4 linked regions of the Homo sapiens genome follow. The protein of the gene in region 3 purifies or fractionates together with the protein of the main gene of each other region. This does not show direct contact. Each region holds a gene or a part of one and is shown on either strand. Other genes may lie near its edges.

Evidence for each region. Proteins that work in one complex are often made in the same cells at the same time.
Region 1: the proteins of CLEC2B (region 3) and EDEM3 purify together in Homo sapiens (affinity purification with mass spectrometry; one large-scale study listed by BioGRID and IntAct). This does not show direct contact.
Region 2: the proteins of CLEC2B (region 3) and ARFGEF2 purify together in Homo sapiens (affinity purification with mass spectrometry; one large-scale study listed by BioGRID and IntAct). This does not show direct contact.
Region 4: the proteins of CLEC2B (region 3) and DIPK1A purify together in Homo sapiens (affinity purification with mass spectrometry; one large-scale study listed by BioGRID and IntAct). This does not show direct contact.

The regions. Positions count from the first base shown.
Region 1 is NC_000001.11:184,720,359-184,723,858, forward strand, and holds part of EDEM3 (ER degradation-enhancing alpha-mannosidase-like protein 3 isoform 2 precursor), read right to left. Parts: intron 3,499-3,500; coding exon 3,393-3,498; intron 1,029-3,392; coding exon 931-1,028; intron 1-930. UniProt on the Homo sapiens protein: Involved in endoplasmic reticulum-associated degradation (ERAD). Accelerates the glycoprotein ERAD by proteasomes, by catalyzing mannose trimming from Man8GlcNAc2 to Man7GlcNAc2 in the N-glycans.
Region 2 is NC_000020.11:48,970,211-48,973,710, reverse strand, and holds part of ARFGEF2 (brefeldin A-inhibited guanine nucleotide-exchange protein 2), read right to left. Parts: intron 2,592-3,500; coding exon 2,357-2,591; intron 1,386-2,356; coding exon 1,286-1,385; intron 567-1,285; coding exon 427-566; intron 1-426. UniProt on the Homo sapiens protein: Promotes guanine-nucleotide exchange on ARF1 and ARF3 and to a lower extent on ARF5 and ARF6. Promotes the activation of ARF1/ARF5/ARF6 through replacement of GDP with GTP. Involved in the regulation of Golgi vesicular transport.
Region 3 is NC_000012.12:9,862,855-9,866,354, forward strand, and holds part of CLEC2B (C-type lectin domain family 2 member B), read right to left. Parts: intron 1-3,500. UniProt on the Homo sapiens protein: Membrane-bound protein expressed on myeloid cells which acts as a ligand to stimulate the activating receptor NKp80/KLRF1, expressed on the surface of natural killer (NK) cells.
Region 4 is NC_000001.11:92,951,463-92,954,962, forward strand, and holds part of DIPK1A (divergent protein kinase domain 1A), read right to left. Parts: intron 1-3,500.

The DNA of each region.
Region 1 (3,500 bases), on a different chromosome or scaffold from region 3:
ATAAACTCAATCCTCCCAATAACCCTATAAATAGTACTAGTACTCCCATTCTGTAGATGAGAAACAGAGGCAAATAATATTAGTTACTTGCCCAAAGTCACAAAACCCGTAGGTGGTACAATCAGAATTTAAACCAGTACATCTCCCATACTTTTTTTTTTTTTTTTTTGAGACGGAGTTTCGCTCTGTCGCCCAGGCTGGAGTGCAGTGGCGCGATCTCGACTCACTGCAAGCTCCGCCTCCCGGGTTCACGCCATTCTCCTCCATACTTTTAATCACCATGTCATACTGTCTCATACATACAACATGGATGAACTGATAGGTGAGCAAGGAAATGGTAGATTAGTTTAAAAAGAATATAGTGATATAACTGATGAGTTTGCTATATTCATTTCAGTTTGCTTCAGTTAAAAAGGTGATTCAATTGGGTTCAATAATCCTCCCACTTTTCCCAAAAAAACATGCTTGTGGTTCTGAACCAGTCTTAAGACTTGCTTTTGAAATGAATACTCACTAGTTTCTCCAGGTCTTCAAAGCCCTGTATCCTTGGTGTAATCAAAGACTAAGCCAAACTTCCAAGATTTCAAAAAGAATTGAAATACAAAGGAAAAAGCTAACTAGTAACATATTTCAATAATTCTTATCCTTGTACAAACAAGATTAGGTAAAACTCAAATCTATTACATCTCTTATTGGCAGATCTGCAAAGTTTCTGATAAAAGGTGAAAATAAAACTACTTTATCAACTGATTTTTTGGAATGTATATCACTTTTTACGCTGTCCCTGTTCAACATCATCAGGAAATACTGACACAAAACCACTACACATTTTAAAAATTATTTTTACAATGTCATTCAGGTAATGGAGTTTCTATAAAAATCTGGACTCAAATGAAGTTGATTATAAAATATAAAATTGTATCAACTTACTGTGTTAAATCTTTCCAGAAAACTGTCATCTCCAAGCAAGACATAGGCTTTCAACAGATATTCATAATATGAATCAATCCCTGCTCCAACTCCACTATCTATGGAAACACAAATGTGATTTTTCATTAAATTTTTTTAAAACCGTTAAATTTTTTTAAAAAAATAGCACTCCTTAGATTAGCATTAAATTAACATTGTGCATATATATGACTACACCAGTTTAGATTTGCCCTGGAACAGATAATTATATTTAAAATAAATAATTTGCTAACTAGTTCATAGTTTAATTAGCTCTTAGTTTCACTAGGTGGAAAATAAGCATCTTGTGTTCTTTAAGAAATTGGTATGTATAAATGAATAGTAAATTCACTTAAATCTTGAGGAAATCTAAAGATGAAGTCTCTTGTTTTGCTTTTTCCTAAAAAGGAAAAAAGAACCAAAGTCAAGAAAAATTAAAGAACAATAATAATATCTACTCTTAAAAAGAAGAAATGTTATCTAACACAAAAATGAAACCTATAGATTCAAAAAAACACCTATTTTACTGTCTTAACCAGTAAAAAAAAAATGATAGGCAGGTGGAGTCTAGACCACTTAGAACTGAACCAACTCTAGACAAAAATGAAGATGGTACAATGCTATGACTGCAAGGAAATGATTTTAAAAATTTCACAGTTTTCATGTTTGTAGCAATATGTTGATGCACAAAATATCAAAAATACAAGTCTGGATTTTTCCTCTTAGGTTTATAATACACTATCAAACTTCTATTTAATGCATTTGTATTTGCATTATAAATGCATTAAGCCTTCTCTGTTTATGTGTATGCTATACAAGCACATACATGCTGGTACGTTACCATGAAAATAATAGTTCTCATCTCAAACTAGTGACTCGTCTTTTTACCCATATTTATATACATTTCATTTCTATTGTAAGACACAACATTTTTCTAGTGGTACATTTAAATCAACATATTATGTTATTTTAAATCTTCATTTTTAAATGAGTCTTTTTAGTGTTATGACATAATGGATTTAATTTAACAGCTGAAGTATGATATGGTAACCACACTGTACTATTTAATTCACAGATGTAGGAAAATATTTGATTTTTAAACTATAACCAAGATGAGACCAGACAGTTATAAGCAGTGAAATACTAGAAAACAGTGAATGAATACACAAGATGACTTTTCATCAGTGGCCATTCAATATTTTGCTTTTAGGAACTTGGAAGAAATTGTCTTGAGTTTCAAATGTTCTGGTAAATCTAGTCATTTCTTAGCTTCCTCAGTATCACCCTGAATTACTGAAATAACTGACTGTGAAGAGTCAAAAGTTCTTTTCTGTCATTTAGATGACACAGAAAAATTTTATACAATACTGAATAAAGGTAATAATTTTAATATGTTTGAATTAATAATTTTATAATTTTTATTTATTTAAATATAGGCAGTTACCATTTATTTTACATATAAACAAGATAAGCTTTTTAGAAATAGAGAAAATGTATAAAAAAGATGCTTTCATTAAGAATATTCTAATTTATTTCCATTCATCTATGCTTATCAGGGTGTTTTATAAAGATAAAATCACAGTTCTTTGTACAATTCAATATCCTGTTTGTTCATATAACATTGTTACATGTTCCTTCCCATGCTCCTGATTTATTTTAATAACAATATTCCAACGCTGATGTAAAATAATTTTCTTAGCTTTTTTTACTGATGGTTAGACTGTTTCCCAATTTTCTGCTATTTATAAATAATTGCATGGGAACATCTTGGGAACAAATAATTTTCTATGTTTTGTATTATTCCTCAGACTAGATTCCCAGAAGTAAAATTATTAATCAAAAGGACTAACATCTCGTTACTGGGCACTTACTTCATAGTAAGTGTAGTACATGCCCGGCACTGTTCTAAGCACTTTACTTTGGTTAACTCATTTAATCCTCATACAGAACAACTAATTACTATTAATATGCCCACTTTACAGATATGGAATAGAGAGGCACACAGAGGTTAAATAAGTTTCCCAAGATCACATAGCTTGAATCCAACAACATGACCCCAGAGTCTATGCTCTTAGCTACTATATTTCTGGAGGTAGGAGAAAAAAAGAATTTATTAAACCCATATTCTTACTAAACCACACCTTGACGTGAGATGGCTGCAGAAATCTGGTTCTCTAGTTTTCAAATAAATTATAGCGTTTCATCTACACCCTATACCTATAATGCTATATCCATTAAGAAATAGAATACTAAATCATGTAGAAGAAGTGTGTCACATTTGGCATCAAAAAAGAAAATCTGGCTAAATTAATTAAAATTCCAGCAATCTTGTGAGAACCTATGCTTTATAGTATCCCAAAGATTATTTTAACAAATGAAAATTCTTTATTTCCCAACCATTTTGAGGATGCAAAGGCTTGATTTAAAAAGCCTAACTTACATACCTTTTCGTACCCAATCTCCAGTATGAATATTTATAGTCACGCCCACTAAATTACTACTTCGCTGTCTTTTTTCCCAGAGAAAATCAAGAGCTTTTCTGGCATATTCCT
Region 2 (3,500 bases), on a different chromosome or scaffold from region 3:
TTCTTTGTAGGTGCTCTAATGAGGTATTCTGCTACTAGCCAATCTCCTTTGCCCCTATTGCAGACTGGGATCCTGTTTTCCACGCTATCTTTGGAAGGGTGACTGAGAATGAATTTGCTTCCTATGGGTCTCAGCTCAAAGGTCACCTTCTAAGGGATACTACCCTAATGGCCCCATTAAGAATTACAGCACCCCACCTTCAGCACTTCCTCTCTGCCGTCCCTGCTTTATTTTTCTCTGCAGCCCCTATGATCATCTGAACTGACTTCTTTAATGTCGTTTCATGATGGCAGGAAGTGTGTGAATATGCATTCCTGTTTTGTTCACTGCTGTATCAAGGACAGTGCCTGGCATGTGGTGGCACTCAATAAATGTTTATTGGAATGAATAAACTTTAATATAATTGAGTGTCCACAGTGTTTTTACCTGCAGAGGTGTCATTCCCAGCTCATGTCCACTTCTTCCCTGAGCAATTTTGGATAAATCATTTACAAGGCGCTCAAAAATGTTAGCAGCATTTAAATCACAGTCGTAGTTGACATAAATATCCACAACACACTGGGCATCTTGGAAAATAACATACAAGTATCAGAAATTCTGATCAAATAGCAGTTAGGTTTTCTTATCAAACAAGATGTTTGCCAACAAATTTCCCCAGTGAACTACAGACTCCGGTGGCCACATCTCACTCAGGAAACACATGTTGGAAGTACTAGGAAGCTGGAAGACAGGAGGTTGTTTTTAGGCCTGCTTCTGAGCAAATTGAAATCTCAGGCAGTTCATTCCACCCATCCAAGCCTCAATTTTCTCATCAAGGAAGGGGTTAACAATTGCCTGACCCACCTCTTAAAGTTGTGTCACTCTTACAAAATTACATTTGATGCCAGACAAGCAGGATGCTTACTTTGAGGCCACACAATTGTATAGTGTAAGGTAAATCCACATTTACCGTAGCACCCAATCAAAAATTGGCAGCACCAGTATCTTAGGTCCTGTGATTAACAGTACTCAGCTTGTAGGTAACGTAACCAAGTGTCCCAGTTTGACGAGATTAGGGGGTTTCTGGGACATGAGACTTTTAGTGCTAAAACCAGGAAGTCCTTGGCAAACCAGCCTAAGTTGGTCATCCTCTAAAAAAGGAGAGGTGGGGCAGGACTAGGTTAGAATTAGCCTTTTATTGCCAATCCTTTAAAACTCTAAAAGGAGGGGTTAGAAGTCTTAATCTGAGCTGTGGCAAATTAAAGCATCAGAAGTCCAGTGGATGAGTGTCCCCAGGTGGAAATACCTGCACAGATCCTCGTCAGAGTCTGAATGACCATCCACCTGTGCTCAAAAGAACTTGTTGATGTTTCTAAAATGTTCAGGAAAATCTCTTTGAAAAAGACCTATATGACATAAAGACAAAGGAGGACACTAATTAACAGTTTCAACCAGGGCTCAAAACCTCCAAAGTCTTCAGCAGCCAACCCAGTCGTGCAGTAAGTAAAGCACCCTGGGCAGAAGAAGAGTGGAGTGCCCACCTGGCTGGGCAGCAACGGGACCCTGGCCTTGGTGGGGACGGCTGGCAGGGTGGGGCCCACTGGGGAGCTGCCAAGTGGAAATGCAGGACCCATACTGTGACTTTTTGGAGAGAAACCAGAAATCTGGATTTTCATGTAAAATAGGATTTCTCAATTTGGCGACTAATCTAAATGATTTCAAACAATTTACAGACCAAACAGATATGTTTAGGGGGCTGAGCCCAGCAGACAGACCATATTGGTTAAAATGAAAGGCACATAAGATCCGGGGGCAGTAACTTTTTTTTTTTGAGATGGAGTCTCGCCCTGTTGCCCAGGCTGGAGTGCAGTGGTGCAATCTTGGCTCACTGCAAGCTCCGCCTCCCGGGTTCATGCCATTCTCCTGCCTCAGCCTCCCGAGTAGCTGGGACTACAGGCGCCTGCCACCACGCCTGGCTAATTTTTTGTATTTTTAGTAGAGACGGGGTTTCACCATGTTAGCCAGGATGGTCTCGATCTCCTGACCTCATGATCCGCCCGCCTCAGCTTCCCAAAGTGCTGGGATTACAGGCGTGAGCCATGGCGCCCAGGCTGGGGGCAGTAACTTTTTATAAAAAGATATTCTCTTACTCATTCAAAAAGTTCTGATTTACTGGGGTGCCAGCCGATGAATATGCCATTTACCCTCCCTGCCCCTGCCCACTTCTGAGTTCCAGGATGGTAAGATATGAAACATTTTCATGAACCATTTTCCTAATGCTTAGTGTAATATTAGCAGCATTCTCAATATTGAGTATTATAATTAATGACTAATAATAATAGTAAATAATGAAATGAAAAAACTTTGGAATCCGTACCTCTATCTGCATTTTCAAGTGCATTTTAAAGTTTGAAAGAAGAGTAAGAAAAATGGCAAGAGAGAGCTCAAAGACATCAGGCACTGAAGAGACGCCGTTTTTGGACAAGGCCACACAGAGATATTGCTTGATTGCATTGATGAACATCTCGTGAGTCCTGAATACGGGGCCAGCATTTTGCAACACAGAGAGGAGCAGCTGCAGGGAAACCACCTTGGAACGCAGCTCATGGGATCTGGCAAAGAAAATGAAAAACCACAACAGTGCTAAAAGAAAAAATGTCAAACAGTATGTTTCTTGAGAAGGCCTTGCTCCTTTACCAATGAGTAGAATTTTAAAGAATTAATAGCACCTAAATGTCAGGAGAATGAGGGCAGATGGCATGAGTTGGGTCCTTCTGGAATCGCAGGCCCTTTGAGAACAAGAGCTGCCAACTCCTATTTGTCTCTTTCCATCACAAAGTAGAGAATACAGCAGGAGCAAAGTGTCAACTGATTCTGGAGAGCGAGTTCTGCAACTGTACTGCAAGAATCAATGACTTTACATCACTTGTGGGAGGCTGAGACACCTGGCTCACTCTGTTTCACACACCATGAAGATGGCGCTCTTTATCCACCTACCTCACAGCCCTCCCTCCCCACTGCCCATGCCGGAGTTCAGGTATGGTAAGAAATGGTACATTTTCATGAACTATTTTCTTAACACTTATTTTTATTTTATTTTATTTATTTATTTATTTTTTTGAGACGGAGTTTTGCTCTTTTTGTCCAGGCTGGAGTGCAATGGCACAAATCTCGGCTCACTGCAACCTCCGTCTCCTGGGTTCAAGCGATTCTCCTGCCTCAGCCTCCAGAGTAGCTGGGATTACAGGCGCCTGCCACCATGCCCGGCTAATTTTTTGTATTTTTAGTAGAGATGGGGTTTCACCATGTTGGCCAGGATGGTCTCGATCTCTTGACCTCATGATCCGCCCGCCTCGGCCTCCCAAAGTGCTGGGATTACAGGCGTGAGCTACCGCGCCCGGCCTATTTTTATTTTTTAAAATTTATTGTTGCTCTGTTGCCCAGGCTAGAGTTCAGTGACACGATCTCAGCTCACTGCAACCTCTGCCTCCTGGGTTCAAGCGATTCTCTTGCCTCAGCTT
Region 3 (3,500 bases):
ACATCATTTCTATACTGGAAAAAGTGAGATCAAGATGGATAACCAGCTTCCCCACCAGCTTGAGTTTCCTGGCAGGAAACTTGCCCCTGCCTTAACACTTGGGAAGCATCGGGGTGCCTGAACGAGGACAGGCAGAGACAAAGTGGGGAGGCAGGACTACCATCCCCAATACCAGAAACTGTGCTCTGTTACTTGGCCAAAGGAGATGTCAACTTAGAGTGGCTGTCGAGCAGCATCATGGTATAGGAGGTTTGTTGCACAGGTCCCCTGGGCTGGAACACCTCGTCAGTCTTCCCACACTACTGGGATATCCCCTTTGGAAGCACCCTCATTTGGTATGAGTGGCACTCTAATTGTTTACTAGAACCAAGGCAAACCTGGGTTAAGGCACCATGTAGTCATAACAAGGAGGCCGAAACCTAGCTGCCGCCCCCCACCCCCAAAAAAATCGACAGGTAAATTACAAGGAATATTTAAACAAACATATTCAATGTAAACCAAAACAAGCCATATAAAATCCTTCAACACAAAGACATAGATGCATATCCATAAGAAACAACAGCAAACAGGGAACTGCGATACCCCTAAATGGACAAAGTCGGAATCAGAGACAGATCTTAATGAAATGGCAATATGTGAGCACTTGTACCAAGAATTCAAAATAGTAGTTTTAAGAAAACTCACTGGTCTCTAAAATAACACAAAAAACAATTCAGAAATATATCAGAGGAATTTAACAAAGGGATTGAAATAATTTTTAAAAATCAAAAAGTGATATTGGAACTGAAAAATACATTTGCTGAACCGAAAATTTTATTAGCGGCTCTCAAAAGAGAATGGATCAAGAAGAAGAAATAATCGGTGAGCATGAGGATGGGCTTTTGAAAATACACAAGGAAAGGAGAAAAAAAGAATAAAAAGGAAGGAAGAATGCCAACATCTTGTAGAAAATTACTGCAAAAGACCATATCTAAGAATTATTGGTGTTTAAGAGAGAGTCAAACCAGAGCAAGAGGTAGAAAGCTTATTCAAAGAAATAATAACAGAAAGTATTACAAAGCTTGAGAAAGAGATAAAGATTCAGGCAGATAAAGGTCAGAGAACACCAAACAGATTCCGACCCCAACAAGACTACCCCTAGGCATAGAATAATCAAACTCTCAAAGGTCAAGGAAAAAGAGAGGATCCTAAAATCAGCAAGAGAAGAGAAGCAAATAATATTTAAAGGAGCTCCAATTTATCTGATGATAGACGTCTCAGTGGAAACCATACAGACCAAGAGAAAAGTGATGACATTTTTTAAGTGCTGAAAAAAAAAAAAAACCCTGCCATCTAAGAATACCATATCCTGCAAAGCTGACCTTCAAATATGAAGAAGAGACAATGTTTCCCAGACAAACAAAAACTGAGAGAATTCACCACCACCAGACATATCTTATAAGAAATGCTAAAGGGAGTTCTTCAACCAAAAAGAAAAAAACACACGAACAGAAAACAGCTGAATATCTAAAATACACTGATAAAATTAAGTGTATGCACAAACCCAGAATACTCTAATACTGTAATTGTGGTGCACAATCTTCTCATATCCCTAGTAATGAAGACTGGAAGATAAATCTATCAAGAACAATGATAACTGCAGAAACCAGTTAAGAGGTAAGCAATAAAAATATGTGAATTGGGAAAACTAAATTAAAAATGTGTGAGGGTGGAGTAAAAGTGTTTTTTTCCTTTGTTGCTATTCTTTGTGATATAAGTTGTTATCTCTTTAAAATAACTTGTTATATCTATAAGATTTTTTATAAGCCTCATAGTAATCACAATGCAAAACCTATAGTAGAGTCATTAAAAATAAAAAGCAACTAATTAATATATACCACCAGAGAAAATTATATAACCCCAAAGAATGACAGTAAGAAAAGAAAAAAGAGAGAAATTTAAAAACAACCATAAAACAAGCAACAAAACAGCCCCAGAAAATCCTTACTTAACAATAACATGGAATTTAAATGAACTCAACTCTCCAATTAAAAGACATAAAGTGCAGGCCGGGTGCAGTGGCTCACGCCTGTAATCCCAGAATTTTGGGAGGCCAAGGCAGGCAGATCATTTGAGGTCAGGAGCTCAAGACTAGCCTGTCCAACATAACGAAACCACATTTCTACTAAAAATACAAAACTTAGCTTGGTGTGGTGGTGTATGCCTGTGATCCTGGCTACTCAGGAGGCTGAGGCAGGAGAGTCGCTTGAATCCAGGAGTTGGAGGCTGCAGTGATCTGAGATCATGCCACTCCACTCCAGCCTGGGCAATAAAGCAAGACTCTCTCAAAAAAAAAAAAAAAAAAAAAGCATAAAGTTAAAGTGGCTGACTTGGTAAAGAGAAAACCCTAACTGTATGCAGCCTACAGGAAATCTGCTTCACCTATAAAGACACACAGAGAATGAAAGTGAAGGGGATGAACAAAGATATTCCATGCAAATAGAAACCAAAAAAGCCGGAGCAGCTATACTTATATCAGATAAAATAGATTACAAAACTTTAAAAGACTACTTTAAAAAGAGACAAAGGTTACTATATAATGCTAAAGAGGTCAATTCAGCAAGAGGATATGACAGTTCTAAAAATCTATGGACCCAACACCAGATCTCCCAAGTATATAAAGCAAACATTCATTGATCTAAAGGGAGAGATAGACTGCAATGCAATAATATTGGGGGACTTTAACTCCTCACCCTGAGTAATGGACAGATAATCTAAACAGGAAATCAACAAGGAATATTGGAGTTATACTGCACACTTTACCAAATATATCCAACTGACACGTACAGAAGCACTGCTGCAGAATACTCATTATTTTTATCAGTACATGGAGCATTCTCCAGAACAGACCACATTGTAGGCCAAAAAACAAGTCTCAATAAATTAAAAAAAGTAGAAATCTAATCAAGTATCTTTTCTGACCACAATGGGATGAAACTAGAAGTCAATAACTTGAGAAACCTCAGAAACTGCACAAACATGAAAATTAAATAATGTGCTCCTTAACGACCAAAGAGTCAATGTTGAAATTAAGAAAATTTTAAAAATTTCTTGAAACAAATGAAAATGGAAGCACAATAAACTAAAATCTGTGGAATGCAGAAAAGCAGTACAAAGAAGGAAGTTTATAGTAATAAATGCCTTTAAAAAAAGGTAAAAAGACTTCAGATAAATAACCTAATGATGAACTTAAAGGATTTGTAAGAGCAAGAACAAACCAAACCCCAAATTAGTAGAAAAAAGAAGTGTTAAAAAATCAAGCTCTTTCTGATGAGGTTTCTTATCTTTCATATATAACCTTATTAATATCATGAATTATTTATTAATTTTCTTTAAACCTCAGGTATCGAAAAGACAGGAAGTTTTTTCTCTGTTTTCAATGCCATGAATCAAGTAAATATGTCAGTATGTCATTCCGTTTTTCTCCCCATGAATTGGCATAATGTAAAAATATAGATGTT
Region 4 (3,500 bases), on a different chromosome or scaffold from region 3:
GGTGACACTGATTTCAACCTTGTGAAACTTGGAGCAGAGAAACAGCTGAGTCACACTGTGCCCTGACTTCTAAGTTAACAAAACTCTGAGATCAGGGTACAAACAAATGGGCGTTGTTTTAAGCCACTAAATTTGTGGTAATTCGTTACAGGAGCACTGGAAAACTAATACTCTTTATTTAATCACTGACTTCAAATATGCTCTGTCAAATCTCATTTTTCTATTAAGAGATGTAACTTTGAACAGAGTTCATACATTTCCAGTCATACTCAATTACTATAAAATCCAGTCTAATTTACTTTCCCCAAACTAATTTTGAAAATGTTTAAACCTACAGAAAATTTAAAAGACTAATACAATGAATACTCTTATACCCTATACCTACCTATATTTATCAACTGCTAACATTGTTCTAATTTATTTGCCTTTTCACTCTTCCTAAATATACATAAATACTCCCCCGCCCCCCACCCTCTCCTTCTCTGTATCAGGCATTCTAAACTGTAGATGATTTTGCCCCCCAGAGGACAACTTATCATCAGGAAAATGAAATTAAAACTACAATGAAATACCAACTCACACCCATGAGAATGGCCACTCTTTAAAAAAAAAAAAAACACACACAAATGTCTGGAGACATATCTGATAGTCACTACTGGGGGAATGCTACTGATATCTAACGGGTAGAGCCCATGGATGCTGCTAAACATCCTGCAACACCAAGTCCCACACAATTATCCAGCCCAAAATATCAATAATGCTGAGATTAAGAAACCCTGCTTTCTGTATATGTATATACAAACATTTTTTTCCTGAACCATTTGTAAGTAAATTACAGACATTATGATACTTTTTACCCTAAAGGCTTTAGTTTTGGCTGGGCATAGTGGCTCACGCCTGTAATGCCAGGACTTTGGGAGGCCAAGGTGGGCCGACTGCTTGAGCCCAGGAGTTCGAGACCAGCCTGGGCAACATGGTGAAACCTGGTCTCTACAAAAAATACAAAAACTAGCCAGGTGTGGTGGCACAGGCCTGTGGGCCCAGCTATTTGGGAGGCTGAGGTGGGAGATCGCTTGAGCCAGGAAGGCTAGGTTGCAGTGAACCATTGAGCCATGATGACGCCACTGCACTCCAGCCTGGGTAACAAAGCAAGACTTTGCCTGAAAAAAACACTACAGTTTATATTTTCTGAAAACCAGAACACTATCCCATACAGCACAATTTAACATTGATACAATACTACTATCCAATATGTAATCCATTTTCAAATTTCCCCGTAATCTAAAAAAAATCCTTTATGGCTTTTTTTTAAAAAAAAATACAGGATCCAATGAAAGGTACATAGGATGGCAGCCTGATCAACATTCTAGATTTAAAATAAATAAGGAGTCCCAATTTTCAAGCAGTGGGGGACAGGGAGTAAAACTTGTGGCACTAGCTCTAAGATCTAATAATAGTCTATGACTCTGATACTATGCTACATCTGAAATGGATGTACTAATTCAGAAGCTTGTTAATACATTAAAATCTCTCTTGGAAGAATATCTTCAAACATGTTTACCCTGTTCTTAAGAAAGGGGAACTCTGCTCACAATAACACATAACCCTGTTGAATAAATATCAATCTGAAACAACAAATCAAGAAGGAACTTTCTCCAAAGAAGATATACAAATGGCCAAAAAGCATATGAAAAGATGTTCAACACCACTAATCATCAGGAAAGTGAATAAAAACTAAAACAAGGTATCAGCTCACGCCCGTGAGAATGGTCACTCTTAAAAAAAAAAAAAGAAAAGAAGTGCAGACGGGGATGTGGAAAAATTGAAACCCTTGTGTATTGTTGGTGGGAATGTAAAAGGGTAAAGCCACTTTGGAAAACAGTATGAAGGTTGCTAAAAAAATTAAAAATAGAATTACCATGTGATCCAACAATCCCACTTCTGGATATACAAAAAAATTGAAAGCAAGATCTCAAAGAGATATTTGCACTCCCATGTTCATTGTAGTACAATTCACAATAGCCAAGAGGTAGAGGCAACCTAAATGTTCATCGACTAATGAATGGATAAAGGAAATGTGGAATATACATACAATGGAATACTATTCACCTTTAAAAAAGAAGGAAATCCTGTCATAATCTACATGGGTGACATTATGTTAAGTGAAATAAGGCAGTCACAAAAAGACAAATGCTGTGTGATTCCACTTATATGAAGTATAAAGCAGTCTAATGGAAACAGAAAGCAGAATGTGGTCACCAAGGGCCAGGGGCAGGAGGAAATGAGGAGTCGTTCAATGGGTAGAGTTTCGACTTTGCAGGATGAAGAAGTTCTAGAGATCTGCTGCACAGATCTTTGTTGCTGCACAAAGTGCATAAAATAGTTAATACTACTATACTATATGCTTAAAAATGGTTAAGATAGCAAATTTTATGTGCTTTTGACCATAATTTAAAAAAACAAAAAATGAAACAGAAAAAAATAACCACCATTCCATGATCACACCTAAGAAAGATAACTATTTAATTTCATTAAATACCCAATCAACAACAAAAAAGGAATTGCTTATTTTCAAAGATAAATTCATTTACTAATATTTTGGGTTATTAAAACATGCACATTGCAATATCCTGGTTTTCTAAACTCGCATACTTCGTAGATTAAAAAGTTTTAAAGGAAAATTATTTGCAAATGATTTGAACATCTAGAAATGAATATGGCCAGACATAGTAGCTCATACATATAATCCTAGCATTTTGGAAGTCCAAGGTGGGAAGGTGCACTTGAACCCAGGAGTTTGAGACCAGCCTGGGCAACAAAGCAAGACCCTGTCTCACAAAAAAAAAAATAAATAAATAAATAAAAGAAATGGATATGTTAAAAATATTAACACTTTATCTTTTCTTTCTTTTTTTTTTTTTTTTTTTTGTTTTGAGACAGAGTCTCACTCTGTCACCCAGACTGGAGTGCAGTGGCGTGATCTTGGCTCACTGCAACCTCCAACTCCCGGGTTCAAGCTCTCCCACCTCAGCCTCCCAAGTAGCTGGGACTACAGGCACATGCCACCATACCCGGCTATTTTTTGTACTTTTAGTAGAGACAGGGTTTCGCCACATTGGCCAGACTGGTCTCAAACTCCTGACCTCAAGTGATCCACCTGCCTCAGCCTCTCAAAGTGCTGGGATTACAGACGTGAGCCTCCGTGCCCAGCCGACAACACCTTACCTCTTCAATCAGACAATGTAAAATGATGGTATTTAACAGGATGATATAGTGTTGCTTTTAGAAACAACTTTTAAAAATAAAAACAATAAAATGTACCTAACTGCTACAAAAAAAGAAAACTTTCATGGAGAATAAAAAATAATACTATAATCCATCAAGATGAAAAACTGGGGCACTCCACAAAAAAACCTGCACACAGATGTTTATGTAGCAGCCTTATTCATAATTGCCAAATACTGGAAGCAACTAAGATGCCCTTCAGTAAGTGAATGGAT